Linked DNA regions of Homo sapiens: region 1 is linked to region 2. The links come from fine-mapping of genetic effects on gene expression. A gene starts in region 2. The other region holds a variant in brackets. All regions are shown on one strand. Distances are from middle to middle.

Region 1 (8,800 bases), 28 kb before region 2:
TGCAATCTTGGCTCACTGCAACCTCTGCCTCCCCGGGTTCAAGTGATTCTCCCCCCTCAGCCTCCTGAGTAGCTGGGATTTCATGCATGTGCCGCCATGCCTGGCTAATTTTGTATTTTTAGTAGAGACGGGGGTTTCACCATGTTGGCCAGGCTGGTCTCAAACTCTTGACCTCAGATGATCTGCCCGCCTTGGCCTCCCAAAGTGCTGGGATTATAGGCGTGAGCCACCGTTCCCAGCCTGATACCTTTATCTTTATTATAGTCAACCTTTTAAATTGATCACTCATTCTAGAAAGTCCTCCTTCTCTTGGCTTCTGAAATGACATTCTTCTCTTTGATCCATTGCTTTTCAGATCTTCTTCTGCCTGATCCTTAGATGTTGAGATTCCTTAGGGCTGGGTATGGTGGTGCACGCCTATCGTCCCAGCTACTCAGGAGAATGAAGCAGGAAGATCACTTGAGCCCAGGAGTTTGAGGCTATGAACTATGATCTTGCTGCTGCATTCTAGCCTGGGTGACACAGCACAGGGAGACCCTGTCTCAGAGAAAAACAACAACAGAAGATTCCTGCAGTCTTCCTCCAACATACATCTAAAGTGTTTTCATTATTCTGCATCTCTTTTGGCCATTCCTTACTCCAAGACACCATTATTTCTACTTAATTTATCTTCTCATTTCTTTATTCCTCCTTCGAATCCAATATTAAAACCCAAATCAATGTCTGAGCACAATGGCTCATGCCTATAATCCTAACACTTCGGGAGGCCAAGACAGGAGAGTCACTTGAGGCCAGGAGTTTGAGACTAGCCTGGGCAACATATTGAGATTCACCCAGGCTGGAGTGCAGTGGTGTGATCATGGCTCACTGCAACCTCTACCTCCCGAGTTCAAGCAACTCTCCTGCCTCAGCCTCCAAGTAGCTAGGACCACGGGCATGTGCCAGCATACCTGGCTAGTTTTTGTATTTTTAGTAGAGATGAGGTTTTACCATGTTGCCCAGGCTGGTCTCGAACTCCCAAGCTCAAGAAATCCACCTGCCTTGCCTCCCAAAGTGCTAGGATTACAGGCGTGAGCCACTGCATCCAGCCCAAAAACATTAAAAAAAATTATCCAGCTGTGGTAGTGTGCACCTATAGTTCTAGCTACTCAGAAGCTGAGATGGGTAGATCCCTTGAGCCCAGGAGTTCAAAGTTGCAATCAGATATGATCTTACTACTGCATTCCAGCCTGGCCAACAGAGCAAGACCCTGTCTCAAAAAAAAAAAAAAAAAAAAAAAAAGAAAAGAAAAGAAAGGAAAATTTTAAGTTTCAAATTTTTGAAACTGCATCCCCAGAAGACACCTTGAAAGACCTTGATCCAGAGGTACCCAGTAAGCCACACCTGGATTCCTGACCCACAACACAGAAATGATGAGATAACGTAGTTGTTTTCAGCGGGTAAAAGAAACCCAAAACAAATAAGGATCACATCTCTGCCCTTCAAGGAAATCTAAGGTTTCCTACAGGTCTTAGAATAAAATCCAGACTCCTGATTATGGCTGGAAAGGTCTTATTGGACCTAGCCCCAGCCTACCTTTCAGACCTTATCTTGGGCCGCTCCCTTAATCCAGCCACGTTTTCAGTTTCAGGTACTCAGCAAGATCTTTACAAGGGGCTCCCTCATCCTGGAATGCTCCTTCTGGCTCTTTACTTGGCTGACTCATTTCAGAAACGAGCTTAAAGTTCATCTCTGAGGGTCCTTCCCTGACCACCCTCTCTATTATCTGTTTCACTATGATGTTGGTTTCCTTTATAATACATCATAATTTGAAATTATTTTGTTTTCCTATTTACTATTTCCTTTTTGTTGTTGTTTTTTTTTTTTTGAGACGGAGTTTCGCTCTCGTTGCCCAGGCTGGAGTGCAATGGCGCAATCTTGGCTCACCGCAACCTCCGTCTCCCGGGTTCATGTGATTCTCCTGCCTCAGCCTCCCGAGTAGCTGGGATTACAGGCATGGGCCACCACATCCAGCTAATTTTGTATTTTTAGTAGAGACGGGGTTTCTCCATGTTGGTCAGGCTGGTCTTGGGTCTGGGGTACTGTTTTCTTTTATTTCTTTGGTCTCCCACAGGAGAGCGTGAGCTTCGTGAAATTAGGGCTCACAATTCACTTTTATGTTCCTGTGTTCCTTGTGCCAGGCAAACTGCCAGACACATAGTAGAGGTCTCATAATATTTGTTAAATAAGAAAAATGCATCTTTATTATTATTTTCTAACACAGTCCATATAACTATCTAAGGCACACGTTGAGAGTTTCATTTAACTCAATCTGAGATGAGACCAGATTTCCCTAAACTATGCGTGCTTCCAGTGAACCTATTTGATTTCTTGTCTCATTTATTTTATGAATGCATTTTTATTGGCTTTTGTTTCCCCCTTACTAGGGTATTCTCATAGCAAAGAGAAGATACAGAATTTAAGGTAAGAATAATGGAATGGGGTTGGGAAAAGGTGAGAATCTTGGAAGTCCCTACTCTAACATGTCTGATCTTTTCTCTGAGAAATCCTGTCCTGGGGCTTTGAGATCTGAGTTTATACTTCCTTCTTTCTCTAGGTCTAGTTATGAAGTGAAAATGTAACATGCTACTGTGTGTACTTCCTGACACCTCTAGCTTCTTTAGTTCTAAAGTTAAGGTATAGAATTTATCACCCTAATAATACAACATGCTTATTCATCTCGATATTAATGGTTTTTCCACTGAACTGAAACATCAACGGATTGAGCTCCTATTATATCCAGGGTCTGGGCTGCACTTAGGCGTTACAGAAGTGAGCAAGAAACCCAGTATCTGTTCTCAGCATTTCTGTAAACAGCCCAGGCATTTTCAACTTTAGTTTCCTATTAGAATCACCCAGGCACTGAAGTGTACTAATGCAGGGCCAACCCCAGAGCAACTGAATCAGAATCTCTGGGGATGAAGCCTAAGCATAGAAATTGTTCTAAAAGCTCTCCAGGTGATTCTAGTGAACAGTCAGGGCTGAGAACTGCTAGTCTGTTATAGACTCCTGTCTTGACCTTCGTTCCTGATTATACACACCCACACATCCATTTCAAATAGGTATGGCTTACATAACTTACTAGATTTTAGACTTTTAGTGATGTTTGGCACATGAATGGAATACAATATATTTGGATTACAAAAATGATTCTGGGCTAGGTGCTGTGGCTTACGCCTATAAGCCCAGCACTTTGGGAGGCTGAGGTGGGAGGATCACATGAGCCCAGGAGTTCAAGACCAGCCTGGGCAACATGATGAGACCTCTTCTCTACAAAAAAATGGAAACATTAGGTGGAAGGATTGCTGGAGCACAGGAGATGAAGGCTGCAATGAGCCATGATTGTGCCACTGCATTCCCACCTGGGTGACAGAGAAAGACCCAGCATCAAACAAAACAAAACAAAAACCTCTGTCCATTGAATGCTATCTAAAGCATTAATAATTTTTTTTTTTTTTTTTTGAGACGGAGTCTGGCTCTGTCACCCAGGCTGGAGTGCAGTGGCACAACCTCGGCTCACTATAACCTCTGCTTCTCGGGTTCAAGCGATTCTCTGCATTAGCCTCCCAAGTAGCTGGGATTACAGGTGCATGCCACCACGCTGGCTAATTTTTTGTATGTTTAGTAGAGACGGGGTTTCACTATGTTGGCCAGGCTGGTCTCGAACTCCTGACCTCGTGATCTGCCAGGCTCAGCCTCCCAAAGTGCTGGGATTACAGGCGTGAGCCACGGCGCCCGGCCCATTTTTTGAAAATCTAAATGTGTACATAATTGCAGACATCTTGATACTTCACCTAAACTTCAGCCTGCACCTCCGAGAAATAAAAATATTCTCTTAGCTATCACAATGCTGTTGTTATACCTAAGAAAATTAAAATTAATGGACATTTTCTCAATTGTTTCCCCATAGTATTTTATTGCTATTTCTTGGCTTTTCCACTTGTTCAGCATCTGATCAAAGATCATGCACTATATTTAGTTGCTGTCTCTTTGGGAAAGCCTATTCTCTTAACTCTATTCCGTGTTACCTGGGAAATGCTTAACTCAACCGCAACACTTTATTTCCACAGCCTCATCTCTTTGGCCAACCTCCCTCCCTCAGGATTGGCAAATGCAGTAGCAGAGGGAATTCGCTCAGAAGAAAACATCTATACCATTGAAGAGAACGTATATGAAGTGGAGGAGCCCAATGAGTATTATTGCTATGTCAGCAGCAGGCAGCAACCCTCACAACCTTTGGGTTGTCGCTTTGCAATGCCATAGATCCAACCACCTTATTTTTGAGCTTGGTGTTTTGTCTTTTTCAGAAACTATGAGCTGTGTCACCTGACTGGTTTTGGAGGTTCTGTCCACTGCTATGGAGCAGAGTTTTCCCATTTTCAGAAGATAATGACTCACATGGGAATTGAACTGGGACCTGCACTGAACTTAAACAGGCATGTCATTGCCTCTGTATTTAAGCCAACAGAGTTACCCAACCCAGAGACTGTTAATCATGGATGTTAGAGCTCAAACGGGCTTTTATATACACTAGGAATTCTTGACGTGGGGTCTCTGGAGCTCCAGGAAATTCGGGCACATCATATGTCCATGAAACTTCAGATAAACTAGGGAAAACTGGGTGCTGAGGTGAAAGCATAACTTTTTTGGCACAGAAAGTCTAAAGGGGCCACTGATTTTCAAAGAGATCTGTGATCCCTTTTTGTTTTTTGTTTTTGAGATGGAGTCTTGCTCTGTTGCCCAGGCTGGAGTGCAATGGCACAATCTCGGCTCACTGCAAGCTCCGCCTCCTGGGTTCAAGCGATTCTCCTGCCTCAGCCTCCTGAGTGGCTGGGATTACAGGCATGCACCACCATGCCCAGCTAATTTGTTGTATTTTTAGTAGAGACAGGGTTTCACCATGTTGGCCAGTGTGGTCTCAAACTCCTGACCTCATGATTTGCCTGCCTCGGCCTCCCAAAGCACTGGGATTACAGGCGTGAGCCACCACATCCAGCCAGTGATCCTTAAAAGATTAAGAGATGACTGGACCAGGTCTACCTTGATCTTGAAGATTCCCTTGGAATGTTGAGATTTAGGCTTATTTGAGCACT[G/A]CCTGCCCAACTGTCAGTGCCAGTGCATAGCCCTTCTTTTGTCTCCCTTATGAAGACTGCCCTGCAGGGCTGAGATGTGGCAGGAGCTCCCAGGGAAAAACGAAGTGCATTTGATTGGTGTGTATTGGCCAAGTTTTGCTTGTTGTGTGCTTGAAAGAAAATATCTCTGACCAACTTCTGTATTCGTGGACCAAACTGAAGCTATATTTTTCACAGAAGAAGAAGCAGTGACGGGGACACAAATTCTGTTGCCTGGTGGAAAGAAGGCAAAGGCCTTCAGCAATCTATATTACCAGCGCTGGATCCTTTGACAGAGAGTGGTCCCTAAACTTAAATTTCAAGACGGTATAGGCTTGATCTGTCTTGCTTATTGTTGCCCCCTGCGCCTAGCACAATTCTGACACACAATTGGAACTTACTAAAAATTTTTTTTTACTGTTTTTTGTTTGTTTGTTTGTTTTTTGAGATAGAATCTCGCTCTGTCTGAGTTCATTGTAGATTCTGGATATTAGCCCTTTGTCAGATGAGTAGGTTGCGAAAATTTTCTCCCATTTTATAGGTTGCCTGTTCACTCTGATGGTAGTTTCTTTTGCTGTGCAGAAGCTCTTTAGTTTAATTAGATCCCATTTGTCAATTTTGGCTTTTGTGGCCATTGCTTTTGGTGTTTTAGACATGAAGTCCTTGCCCATGCCTATGTCCTGAATGGTAATGTCTAGGTTTTCTTCTAGGGTTTTTAGGGTTTTAGGTCTAACGTTTAAGTCTTTAATCCATCTTGAATTAATTTTTGTATAAGGTGTAAGGAAGGGATCCAGTTTCAGCTTTCTACATATGGCTAGCCAGTTTTCCCAGCACCATTTATTAAATAGGGAATCCTTTCCCCATTGCTTGTTTTTCTCAGGTTTGTCAAAGATCAGATAGTTGTAGATATGCGGCATTATTTCTGAGGGCTCTGTTCTGTTCCATTGATCTATATCTCTGTTTTGGTACCAGTACCATGCTGTTTTGATTACTGTAGACTTGTAGTATAGTTTGAAGTCAGGTAGCGTGATGCCTCCAGCTTTGTTCTTTTGGCTTAGGATTGACTTGGTGATGCGGGCTCTTTTTTGGTTCCATATGAACTTTAAAGTAGTTTTTTCCAATTCTGTGAAGAAAGTCATTGGTAGCTTGATGGGGATGGCATTGAATCTATAAATTACCTTGGGCAGTATGGCCATTTTCACCATATTGATTCTTCCTACCCATGAGCATGGAATGTTCTTCCATTTGTTTGTATCCTCTTTTATTTCATTGAGCAGTGGTTTGTAGTTCTCCTTGAAGAGGTCCTTTACGTCCCTTGTAAGTTGGATTCCTAGGTATTTTATTCTCTTTGAAGCAATTGTGAATGGGAGTTCACTCATGATTTGGCTCTGTTTGAACTCAAACAAATTTACAAGAAAAAAACAAACAACCCCATCAAAAAGTAGGCAAAGGATATGAACAGACACTTCTCAAAAGAGGACATTTATGCAGCCAAAAGACACATTAGAAAATGCTCATCATCACTGGCCATCAGAGAAATGCAAATCAAAACCACAATGAGATACCATCTCACACCAGTTAGAATGGCAATCATTAAAAAGTCAGGAAACAACAGGTGCTGGAGAGGATGTGGAGAAATAGGAACACTTTTACACTGTTGGTGGGACTGTAAAGTAGTTCAACCTTTGTGGAAGTCAGTGTGGCAATTCCTCAGGGATCTAGAACTAGAAATACCATTTGACCCCACCATCCCATTACTGGGTATATACCCAAAGGACTATAAATCATGCTGCTATAAAGGCACATGCACACGTATGTTTATTGTGGCACTATTCACAATAGCAAAGACTTGGAACCAACCCAAATGTCTGACAATGATAGACCGGATTAAGAAAATGTGGCACATATACACCATGGAATACTATGCAGCCATAAGAAATGATGAGTTCATGTCCTTTGTAGGGACATGGATGAAATTGGAAATCATCATTCTCAGTAAACTATTGCAAGGACAAAAACCCAAACACCGCATGTTCTCACTCATAGATGGGAATTGAACAATGAGAACACATGGACATAGGAAGGGGAACATCATACTCTGGGGACTGTTGTGGGGTGGGGGAAGGGGGGAGGGATAGCATTAGGAGATATACCTAATGCTAAATGACGAGTTAATGGGTGCAGCACACCAGCATGGCACATGTATACATATGTAACTAACAGGCACACTGTGCACATGTACCCTAAAACTTAAAGTATAATAATAATAATAATAATAATAATAATAATAATAATAATAATAATAAAAGAATCTCACTCTGTCGCCCAGGCTGGAGTGCAGTGGCATGATCTTCACTCACTGCAGCCTTGACCTCCTGGGCACAATTCACTCTTCTGCCTCAGCCTCCCCAGTAGCTGGGACTATAGCCATGCACCACCATGCCAAGCTAATTTGCATAGTTTTAGTAGAGACAAGGTTTCACCATGTTGGCTAGGCTGGTCTCAATCTCCTGGGCTCAAGCAATCCCCCCTGCCTCGACTTCCCAAAGTGCTGGGATTTGAGGCGTGAGCCACCGTGCCCGGACTAAATATTTTTGGAGTGAAAAACTTAAATAATCAGAAAGGTAGCTTTCTGGAAGACTTCCATTAGACAGCTCAGAGAGAGTGTGACTCTGCAAGTTCACTTCTTAGGGAACTCACAAATACCCAGAAGCTCCCATATTCACTCTTTTGTTTGTTTGTTTGTTTTGAGACAGAGTCTCACTCTGTTGCCCAGGCTGGAGTGCAGTGGCACAATCTCGGCTCATCACAACCTGTGCATCCTGGGTTCAAGCGATTCTCCTGCCTCAGCCTCCCAAGTAGCTGGGACTACAGGCATGCACCACCACACCCAGCTAATTTTTGTATTTTTAGTAGAGACGGGGTTTCACTATGTTGGCCAGGCTGGTCTTAAGCTCCTGACTGTGTGATCTGACCGCCTCGACCTCCCACATTGCTGGGATTACAGGTGTGACCCACTGTGCCCAGCCCCATATTAACTCTTATCCAGGCCAAAGTGGCCTTTGTTTCTCAACATTGTTCAGCTCAGGCCTTTGTTGGGGTCTTACTCTTTTGTCTATTTCCTTCTTTCTGCTGAGCCATCCTCAGCACATCGGAATGAATTAACAATATGGGCCTATCACTGCCTAAAAACTGGTCCTCCCCAGGTGATGACTAAGCTGTGATTGTGTTGCATGCAGAAGATGTTGGCCAGCAAGGCTGTCGCCAGCCTGCTTGTTTCTAGAAGTCTTTCTGACAGTCTCGTGTGAATTAGAGCATTGGGCTGCATCTAGATAGTTTCGGGACAGACTGACATTCTGTAGGCAGATACGTAAGGGAGATCATTTTGCAAAATTAATTGTAGGGAACAGCTCTCATACAGGCTAAAAAATTAATCTGAACTGTCTTTTTAAATTTTTTGACATAGAGTCTTGCTCTGTCGCCCAGGGTGGAGTGCATTGGTACAATCTTGGCTCACTGCAACCTCCACCTCCTGAGTTCAAGTGATTCTCCTACCAAAGCCTCCCAAATAGCTGGGATTACAGGTGCACATCACCACACTCGGCTAATTTTTTGTATTTTTAGTAGAGATGAGGTTTTGCCATATTGAC
Region 2 (8,800 bases):
TAAATTACATTTTAGTGATGTTTTAAAAATCTGTATATTTATTTTTCAGTTAAAAGTTAGTTACATGAGGCCAGGAGTGGTGCTCACGCCTATAATCCCAGCACTTTGGGAGGCCAAGGCGGGCAGATCACTTGAGGTCAGGAGTTCGTGACCAGCCTAACCAACATGGTGAAACCCCGTCTCTGCTAAAATTACAAAAATTAGCCGGTGTGGTGATGCATGCCTGTAATCCCAGCTTCTTGGGAGGCTGAGGTAGGAGAATCGCTTGAACCCAGGAGGCAGAGTTTGCAGTGAGCTGAGATCGTGCCATTGCCCTCCAGCCTGGGCAAAAAAAGCGAAGCTCCATCTCAAAAAAAAAAAAAAAAATGTAAGTTACATGAGGCCAGGGGTCTTTGGTTCATTGGTACATTCCAGATGAATAGGATCATTTCTAACATATCGCAGATCATCAACAAATAATTGTTAAATGAGTACACTTTTGGTATTTTTATATATTTTCTTTCTTTCTTTCTTTCTTTCTTTTTTTTTTTGAGACAGAATCTCGCTCTGTCACCCAGGCTGGAGTGCAGTGGTGTGTGATCTCAGCTCACTGCAACCTCCACCTCCCAGGTTCAAGCGATTCTCTTGCCTCAGCCTCCCTAGTATCTGAGACTACAGGCACGCGCCACCACGCCTGGCTAATTTTTGTAGTTTTAGTAGAGACAGGGGTTTGCCATATTGGCCAGGCTGGTCTTGAACTCCTAACCTCAAGTGATCCTCCTGCCTTGGCCTCCCAAAGTGCTGGGATTACAGGTGTGAGCCACCATACTTGGGCTTTTATGTATTTTCTATGGTAAACATAGGTGGTACCCTGTAATTTTTATATCTTTGTAAAAGATATAAAAAAAAGAAGCATTATATTACTTGTTATGAAATCAGAGGAGTAAGTGAAGGAAAATAACTAGCTTAGGGCAGTGGGCAGGGCAGGAAGAGAACTGAAAGGTAGGAAGACAGTTTTGGAGGGAATTGCAGAAGTCTGGATTATAGAGGCCTAATATAAAGTGATGGGGATGAGGGAGAGACTGACAGGTACAATGATGTGGAGTTGGTGAGTCCCTAGTTGTGGAGGGGGCCTAAGAAGATCTTGCTGTGGTGAAAGCATGGGGAATATGAACAGCTGAACTGTTTTGCAGGAGGCTGGAGCTGGAGGTACGATGTGCGCTGAGATAGCAGGGAAGTAAGTGGTGATTGCAAGAAAGAACAGTGAATTATTTTCTTTTCTGAATTCTTTCTTTTTTTTGAGACAGGGTGTCAATCTGTTGTCCAGGCTGGAGTGCAGTGGCACGATCTCAGCTCACTGCAACCTCCACCTCCCGGGTTCGAGCAATTCTCCTGCCTCAGCCTCCCAAGTAGCTGGGATTACAGGCACCCACCACCGTGCCCGGCCCATGTTCTGAATCATTTCAATTCACTGCCGTTAATCTTGGTTTATACAGATGCAGCTCCCTAGTGAGCAGCTGGAAATTCAGCTTTGGTGCCCAAGTATTGTCACTTCCAGCTTTACCCTACAACTGGGATGCATCCTTCAGGGGGGTCATGAAGTTTGCCCTAAAGAGTAGTGATCCCTGGAGGTTGTATAGCTCATTAAAAAAATCCACTGTGCTATATTGTTTGGGAGTCTTTAGAACACAGGCGTCTCTCATGGGAGATGGTCCTGTGTCAGAAAATTCAACCCTATGGAATTGTACAGTTATGTAACATCTCAGAGCCTTGGCTCCACATCCCTGTCCTGGCTCTCTCTGGCTCATCATTTCCTCCAGTTGAAACACCCTCCACCCATTCTTCTCACATGTCACTTTTTAAGAAATTCTTCCCACCCCCCACATTCCGTCATCAAAATGAATGGTCTTTCCCTATGGGTTTGTGTTTCCATTTGTTTATCTATTCAATTAATAACTTTTTTTTTTTTGAGAAGTCTCACTCTGTGGCCCAGGCCAGAGTGCAGTGGCATGATCTCCGCTCAGGGTAAATTCTGCCTCCCGGGTTCAGGCGATTCTCTTGCCTCAGCCTCCTGAGTAGCTGGGATTACAGGCACCCGCCACCACGCCTGGCTAATTTTTGCATTTTTGGTAGAGTTGGGTTTCACCATGTTGGCCAGGCTGGTTTGGAACCCCTGACCTCAAGTGATCCTCCCACCTCGGCCTCCTTTGGATTACAGGTGTGAGCAACCATGCCTGGCTTCAACACTTAAATTGCCTTAAAGGAGTTTATGGTCTGGAGTTGGGTGCCACACAACACAGTCACTATGTGTGACAATTTAAATTTTATTTTTTTGTTTTTAATTAATTTATTTTTTTGAAAGCTCTGTCATCTAAGGCTTGAGTGCAGTGGTGCCATCTCAACTCCCCGAAGACTGTCTCCTGGGCTCAAGCAATCTGAAATTTTAATTAAAATGAAATTAAATAAAAATTTTTAGGCCAGGCATGGCGGCTCACACCTGTAATTCCAGCACTTTTGGAAGTTGAGATGAGCGTATCACTTGAGGCCAGGAGTTCCAGCCCAGCCTGGCCAACATGGTGAAACTCCACCTCTGCTAAAAATACAAAAATTAGCCAGGCATGGTGGCGCGTGTCTGTAGTCCCAGCTACTCAGGAGACTGTGGCAAGAGAATCACTTAAACCCAGGAGATGGAGGTTGCACTGAGCTGAGATTGTGACACTGCACTCCAGCCTGGGTGACAGAGTCAGGCTCTGTCTTGGAAAAAAAAAAAATTAAAAATGCCTTGGTTGCCTTAGCCACATTTCAAGTGCTCAATAGTCATATGTGGCTAGTGGCTGCTGTAGTGCACGACACTCACACAGAATAACTCTGTAACCAATATTCTACTGGAGACAGAATCGATCCTATGGAATTCAAATTCAAATCCTATGGAATTGTACAGTTATGTAACATCTCAGAGCACTGGCTCCACATCCCTGTCTTGGCTCTCTGTGGCTCATCAGTTCCAGAATAACTCCGTTACCAGAATAACTCCATTACTAAAATTCTACCGGGCAGCACTCTATAGGAGGGAATAGAGACAGACACCACATATATTGCACACACAGATAAAATGGATTAAGGAAAACAAGATAATAATAGTGAGAGGGACTGGTTGGCTACTTTAGATTGAAGGACCTGTGAAAAATGTCCAGGGAGGTCATATTTAAGCCGGGATAAAAATGAAAAGGAAAAAAGTGAAAATGGTGGGGCTGGGGAGCTAGATGGAGAACACAGCCACGGAAAAGGCCTTAGGGTTGAGGCAAGTTGGAAAGAAAGCTCTAGTAGCTGGGGCTGAGTCAGCAGGGGAGAGAGTGGTAGAAGAAATCTATGGGGTAGGTCAGGGCCAGACCACCAGGGCTTCAGTAATTTGAGTAAAGATTTAGGAATTATTATTATTATTATTATTATTATTTTTCTGAGAGAGTTATGAGAGGGTTATAAGTGGGGGAATGATGTAGTCTGATTATATATTTACCTTTACCTCACTTATCCTGATTTCATTAGTTGCTTACTTACCCATGTCCCTGCCCGATTGCACAAGTCTGGATTTTTGACGTCCCTAGTATATTGAGTCATGTCCCATCAGCTCAATATGTTAGTAATAACTGGTTGAATTGAATTAGCTTTTTTTTTTCAATCTTTTTTTCCTTAAGAAACAGGGTCTTGCTCTGTCACCCCGGCTGGTGTGCAGTGGCACAATCATAGCCTCCAACTGCTGGGCTCAAGCAACCCTCCTGCCTCAGCCTCCTGAGTAGCTGGGACTACGGTCAGGTACACAAGGCCTGACTATATTTTTTGTTCGTTTTTTTTGCAGAGAGGGAGTCTTGCTATGTTGCCCAGGTTGGTCTCAAACTCCTTACCTCAGGTGATCCACTTGCCTTGGCCTCCCAAAGTGTTGGGATTACAGGCGTGAGCCACTGTGCCTGGCAAGAAATGAATTTTTATTTTTATTTTTGAGATGGAGTTTTGTTCTTGTTGTCCAGGCTAGAGTGCAATGGCTTGATCTCGGCTCACTGCAACCTCCACCTTCCAGGTTCAAGCAATTCTTCTACCTCAGCCTCCTAAGTAGCTGGGATTACAGGCGCCCGCCACCACCCCCAGCTAATTTTTGTATTTTTAGTAGAGTCGGGGTTTCACCGTGTTAGCCAGGCTGGTCTTGAACTCCCGACCTCAGGTGACTGGCCTACTCGGCCTCCCAAAGTGCTGGGGTTACAGGCACGAGCCACCATGCCCGGTCAAGAAATGAATTTTTAAACGCTGCCATACAAAACACTATGCTGAGATCATCCACTTCCCCATGAACCCTGTCATGAGCTGCAAGATACAGACCACCACTGCCTCCTTGGAAGTTACTGAATTCTTAGACCAGAAGAGGAGTTAATGAAGTACTAGGCAAGCTTACTCATGTTTGTATGGTTTAATGATTAACAGCAGAAGTCAACAGCCCGATTTAACGCATGTGGGTGCTTGACACAGAGCCTGCTATATAGTATTCTCCAAAAACCTCAGCTAGTGCTATTACTGCATATGATGTAGGTTTAGTTTTCCAAGTTCTTCCGTGGCCCTTTTTGCTTATTATATCAATCCTTGGTGGGAGATAGAGGAAGCATTTTTAGTGCTATTTTACAACTGAGGAAATAGAGGTTTGAAGAGAACTCAGGAACTCTCAGGGTTACCCAGCATTGTGAGTGACAGAGCCTGGATCTGAACGTAAGTCTGCTCCAGACTTCTGTTTCCTGAAGCATTCTCTTGAAGTCCCTTGGTAAGGAGGTGTAGTCTGAAGCATGTTGTACAGGAGCATGAAAGGTTAGGCACAGTGATTCACATTCACTCTCAATTTCTCTTGCTAATGGCAAACTTGGCAATATGACTGTTAAGGCTAGGGATAAGTCGTTGTGGCCACTGAGTAGGAAAAGCTCCACGTCCACCAGAGGCCCAGTTTACTCTGAAAAGCAAGTGCATCTCTGCCACTGGAAGGCTGGCATTTGCTCTCGTGCTGCCATTGAGCCACGCTGGTTCTCTGCTTCCAGTTTCCTTTTCTTTTCTTTTTTTTTGTTTTGTTTTTTGAGACGGAGTCTTGCTCTGTCGCCCAGGCTGGAGTGCAGTGGCGCGATCTCGGCTCACCGCAAGCTCCGCCTCCCGCGGGTTCACGCCATTCTCCTGCCTCAGCCTCCCGAGTAGCTGGGACTACAGGCGCCAGTGACCACGCCCGGCTAATTTTTTGTATTTTTAGTAGAGACGGGGTTTCACCCTTTTAGCCAGGATGGTCTCGATCTCCTGACTTCGTGATCTGCCCGCCTTGGCCTCCCAAAGTGCTAGGATTACAGGTTTGAGCCACCGCGCCCGGCCCTGTTTCCTTTTTGTTTGTTCCCCTGATACCCTGTATCAGGACCAGGAGTCAGTTTGGCGGTTATGTGTGGGGAAGAAGCTGGGAAGTCAGGGGCTGTTTCTGTGGACAGCTTTCCCTGTCCTTTGGAAGGCACAGAGCTCTCAGCTGCAGGGAACTAACAGAGCTCTGAAGCCGTTATATGTGGTCTTCTCTCATTTCCAGCAGAGCAGGCTCATATGAATCAACCAACTGGGTGAAAAGATAAGTTGCAATCTGAGATTTAAGACTTGATCAGATACCATCTGGTGGAGGGTACCAACCAGCCTGTCTGCTCATTTTCCTTCAGGCTGATCCCATAATGCATCCTCAAGTGGTCATCTTAAGCCTCATCCTACATCTGGCAGGTAAGTGAGTAGGTGCCCTGGGCGGGAAGAAGGGAGTAGAGGGGGGTTAGAAGCCAGAGAATGGGGTAGGGGAAGGGGAGGGGATGGTGGTGGTGGATTAATGTAGATGTTCTTTGGGTACCGTTGTATGGCTATGAGTTAACTAGTGAGCAGGACCAGAATAAAGTTTTAGGCCAAAGAAATTGCTTAACTGCTGTGAATTACAACATTCATGGCTAAATGAACAAGGCAAGATGCAGCACAGTGTGTCACAGGCTGCCCTTTGTGTTTAAACAAAAAGGGTGTGGTTAGATGTATATGCATAGACACATGTATATAGGAAATAGTGACAGTGGGTAATGTGGGATGGGGGCAGAGGGTGGGAGGTGGAGGGAGAGTTAATCCTTATTGTATTTTTTTGTGCCTTCCGATTTTTTTCAGCCACATTCAATTCTCTTTCTTTCTTTCTTTCTTTCTTTCTTTCTTTCTTTCTTTCTTTCTTTCTTTCTTTCTTTCTTTCTTTCTTTCTTTCCTCTCTCTCTCTCTCTCTCTCTCTTCATGAGGTCTCACTCTGGAGTGCAGTAGGGCAATCTTTTTTTTTTTGAGACAGAGTCTCACTCTGTCGCCCAGGCTAGAGTTCAGTGGCGTGATCTCGGCTCACTGCAGCCTCCGCCTCCTGGGTTCAAGCAATTCTCTGCCTCAGTCTCCCAAGTAGCTGGGATTACAGGTACCTGCCACCACTACCAGCTAATTTTTTTGTATTTTTAGTAGAGACAAGGTTTCCCCATCTTGGCCAAGCTGATCTTGAACTCCTGACCTTGTGATCCACCTGCCTCGGCCTCCCAAAGTGCTGGAATTATAGGCGTGAGTCACCGCGCCTGGCCTAGTTGGGCAATCTTGATTCACTGCAACCTCGACCTCCTGGGCTCAAGTGATTCTCCCACCTCAGTCTCCCAAAGTGCTGGGATTATAGGCGTTAGCCACCACATCTGGCCTAAGTATTTTATTTTGAAATAAACACTTTAATTCAAAACATTCTATGAGATAAGGAAAGAGTAAAATAGACATATCCTAATTTTTAAACACAAATTTCTGGAGTGATATATGCCTTTGGGATTATGGGGGAAAAATAATCTCTCATTATATACTTCTATAACCAAATTGTAATAGCATGCATTATATGTGTAATCCAAAAAAATGATACTAGTATTAGGCAAAATTAAACAAGAATTTCTTGGTGGCCGGGCGTGGTGGCTCACACCTGTAATCCCAGCACTTTGGGAGGCCAAGGCGGGCAGATCACGAGGTCAGGAAATCGAGACCATCCTGGCTAACATGGTGAAACCCCGTCTCTACTAAAAATACAAAAAAATTAGCCGGGCGTGGCGGCGTGTGCCTGTAGTCTCAGCTGCTGGGGAGGCTGAGGCGGGAGAATGGCGTGAACCTGGGAGGCGGAGCTTGCAGTGAGCCGAGATCACACCACTGCACTCCAGCCTGGGCGACAGAGCAAGACTCTGTCTCAAAAAAAAAAAAGAAGAAATTCTTTTTAGAAAGACTTTGTCTAAAAAAAAAAATTAAAAGAATGCTAGCATAGAAAAATGCTTATAATCTCAAATTTTAAAAATTCCAGCTATATCAGCTAACTTGGAAAAAGGGGAAAAACCTTCCAGCTATAATGTCTATTTACAAGGCTGGGCATGGTGGCTCATGCCTGTAATCCCAGCACTTTGGGATGCTCAGGTGGGTGGATCACTTGAGGTCAGGAGTTCAAGACTAGCCTGTCTCTACTAAAAATACAAAAATTAGCCGGGCGTGGTGGCATGTGCCTGTAATCCCAGCTACTTGGGAGGCTGATGCATGAGAATTGCTTGAACCCAGGAGGCGGGGGTAGCAGTGAGCCAAGATCTTTGCGCCACTGCACTACAGCCTGGGTGACAGAGCAAGACTCTGTCTTAAAAAAATAAAAAATAAACAATTAAAAAATGAATAAAATATTTTTTTAAAGAAAGTAAAACAAGTAAAAAAAATTAAGAGAATTTTTTTTTGGGGGAGGGGGAGACAGAGTCTGCTCTGTCACCCAGGCTGGAGTGTAGTGGCACGAGCTCAGCTTGCTGCAACCTCCGCCTCCCAGGTTCAAGCACTTCTCCCTGCCTTAGCCTCCTGAGTAGCTGGGATTACACCACTACACCCCGCTAATTTTTGTAATTTTTTTTTTAGTAGAGATCGGGTTTTGCCATGTTGGCTAGGCTGGTCTTGAACTCCTGACCTGGGTTGATCTGCCTGCCTTGGTCTCCCAAAGTTCTTGGATTACAGGCGTGAGCCATTGTGCCCAGCCAAGATGAAATAGTGAGGGCTCATTCTCAGTTTGTCTTTTCTTCTTTGCAGATTCTGTAGCTGGTTCTGTAAAGGTTGGTGGAGAGGCAGGTCCATCTGTCACACTACCCTGCCACTACAGTGGAGCTGTCACATCCATGTGCTGGAATAGAGGCTCATGTTCTCTATTCACATGCCAAAATGGCATTGTCTGGACCAATGGAACCCACGTCACCTATCGGAAGGACACACGCTATAAGCTATTGGGGGACCTTTCAAGAAGGGATGTCTCTTTGACCATAGAAAATACAGCTGTGTCTGACAGTGGCGTATATTGTTGCCGTGTTGAGCACCGTGGGTGGTTCAATGACATGAAAATCACCGTATCATTGGAGATTGTGCCACGTAAGTTTTTCTTTGATATTTCTTGCTAGTTAATTGAATTTTCTGTTCGGTAGTAATTTTCTTTTTTCTTAATAGGGAAAGAGGAGGTTCCCGTAAGTCCTGTTTTTAAATAAACTCTTGTTCTTGGGAAATAGAATAACTTTTGTGTAGATGAAGTTACAAGGCCAAGCATAATTCAAGGTCAGGCTAGAATCAGCAAACTAGCTCCTACAGCAGTACAATTGTTCCTTGATATCTATGGGAAATTGTTTCCAGGACCCCCTTGATACCAAAATCTGCAGATGCTCAAGTCCCTATATAAAATGGTGTAGTATTTGCATGTAAACTATGCACATAGTCCCATATGCTT

Which allele goes with the higher level. Alleles are on the strand shown, and positions count from the first base shown. SD is a standard deviation of normalised expression in the study named.
With allele A in place of G in region 1, the expression in monocytes after R848 of the gene that starts at base 4,536 in region 2 is higher (moderate effect, 0.63 SD a copy in Quach 2016).

The links. PIP is the estimated chance that this variant, and not a neighbour inherited with it, causes the effect.
Region 1: its variant is the best candidate, but not a certain one, in a credible set for the expression of HAVCR1 in monocytes after R848 (Quach 2016, PIP 0.52).

What each region holds. Positions count from the first base shown.
Region 1 is chr5:157,082,604-157,091,403 of GRCh38, reverse strand. HAVCR2 (hepatitis A virus cellular receptor 2) reads left to right here. Exons shown (of 7, transcript NM_032782.5): 6 at 2,427-2,463; 7 at 4,110-5,572. The coding sequence ends at 4,302. Among named protein-coding and RNA genes, the nearest start is that of HAVCR2, 22 kb to the left of the region's middle. The variant G/A (reference allele first, on the strand shown) is at 5,133.
Region 2 is chr5:157,054,852-157,063,651 of GRCh38, reverse strand. HAVCR1 (hepatitis A virus cellular receptor 1) reads left to right here and starts at 4,536. Exons shown (of 9, transcript NM_001173393.3): 1 at 4,536-4,731; 2 at 5,697-5,754; 3 at 8,119-8,451. The coding sequence starts at 5,709.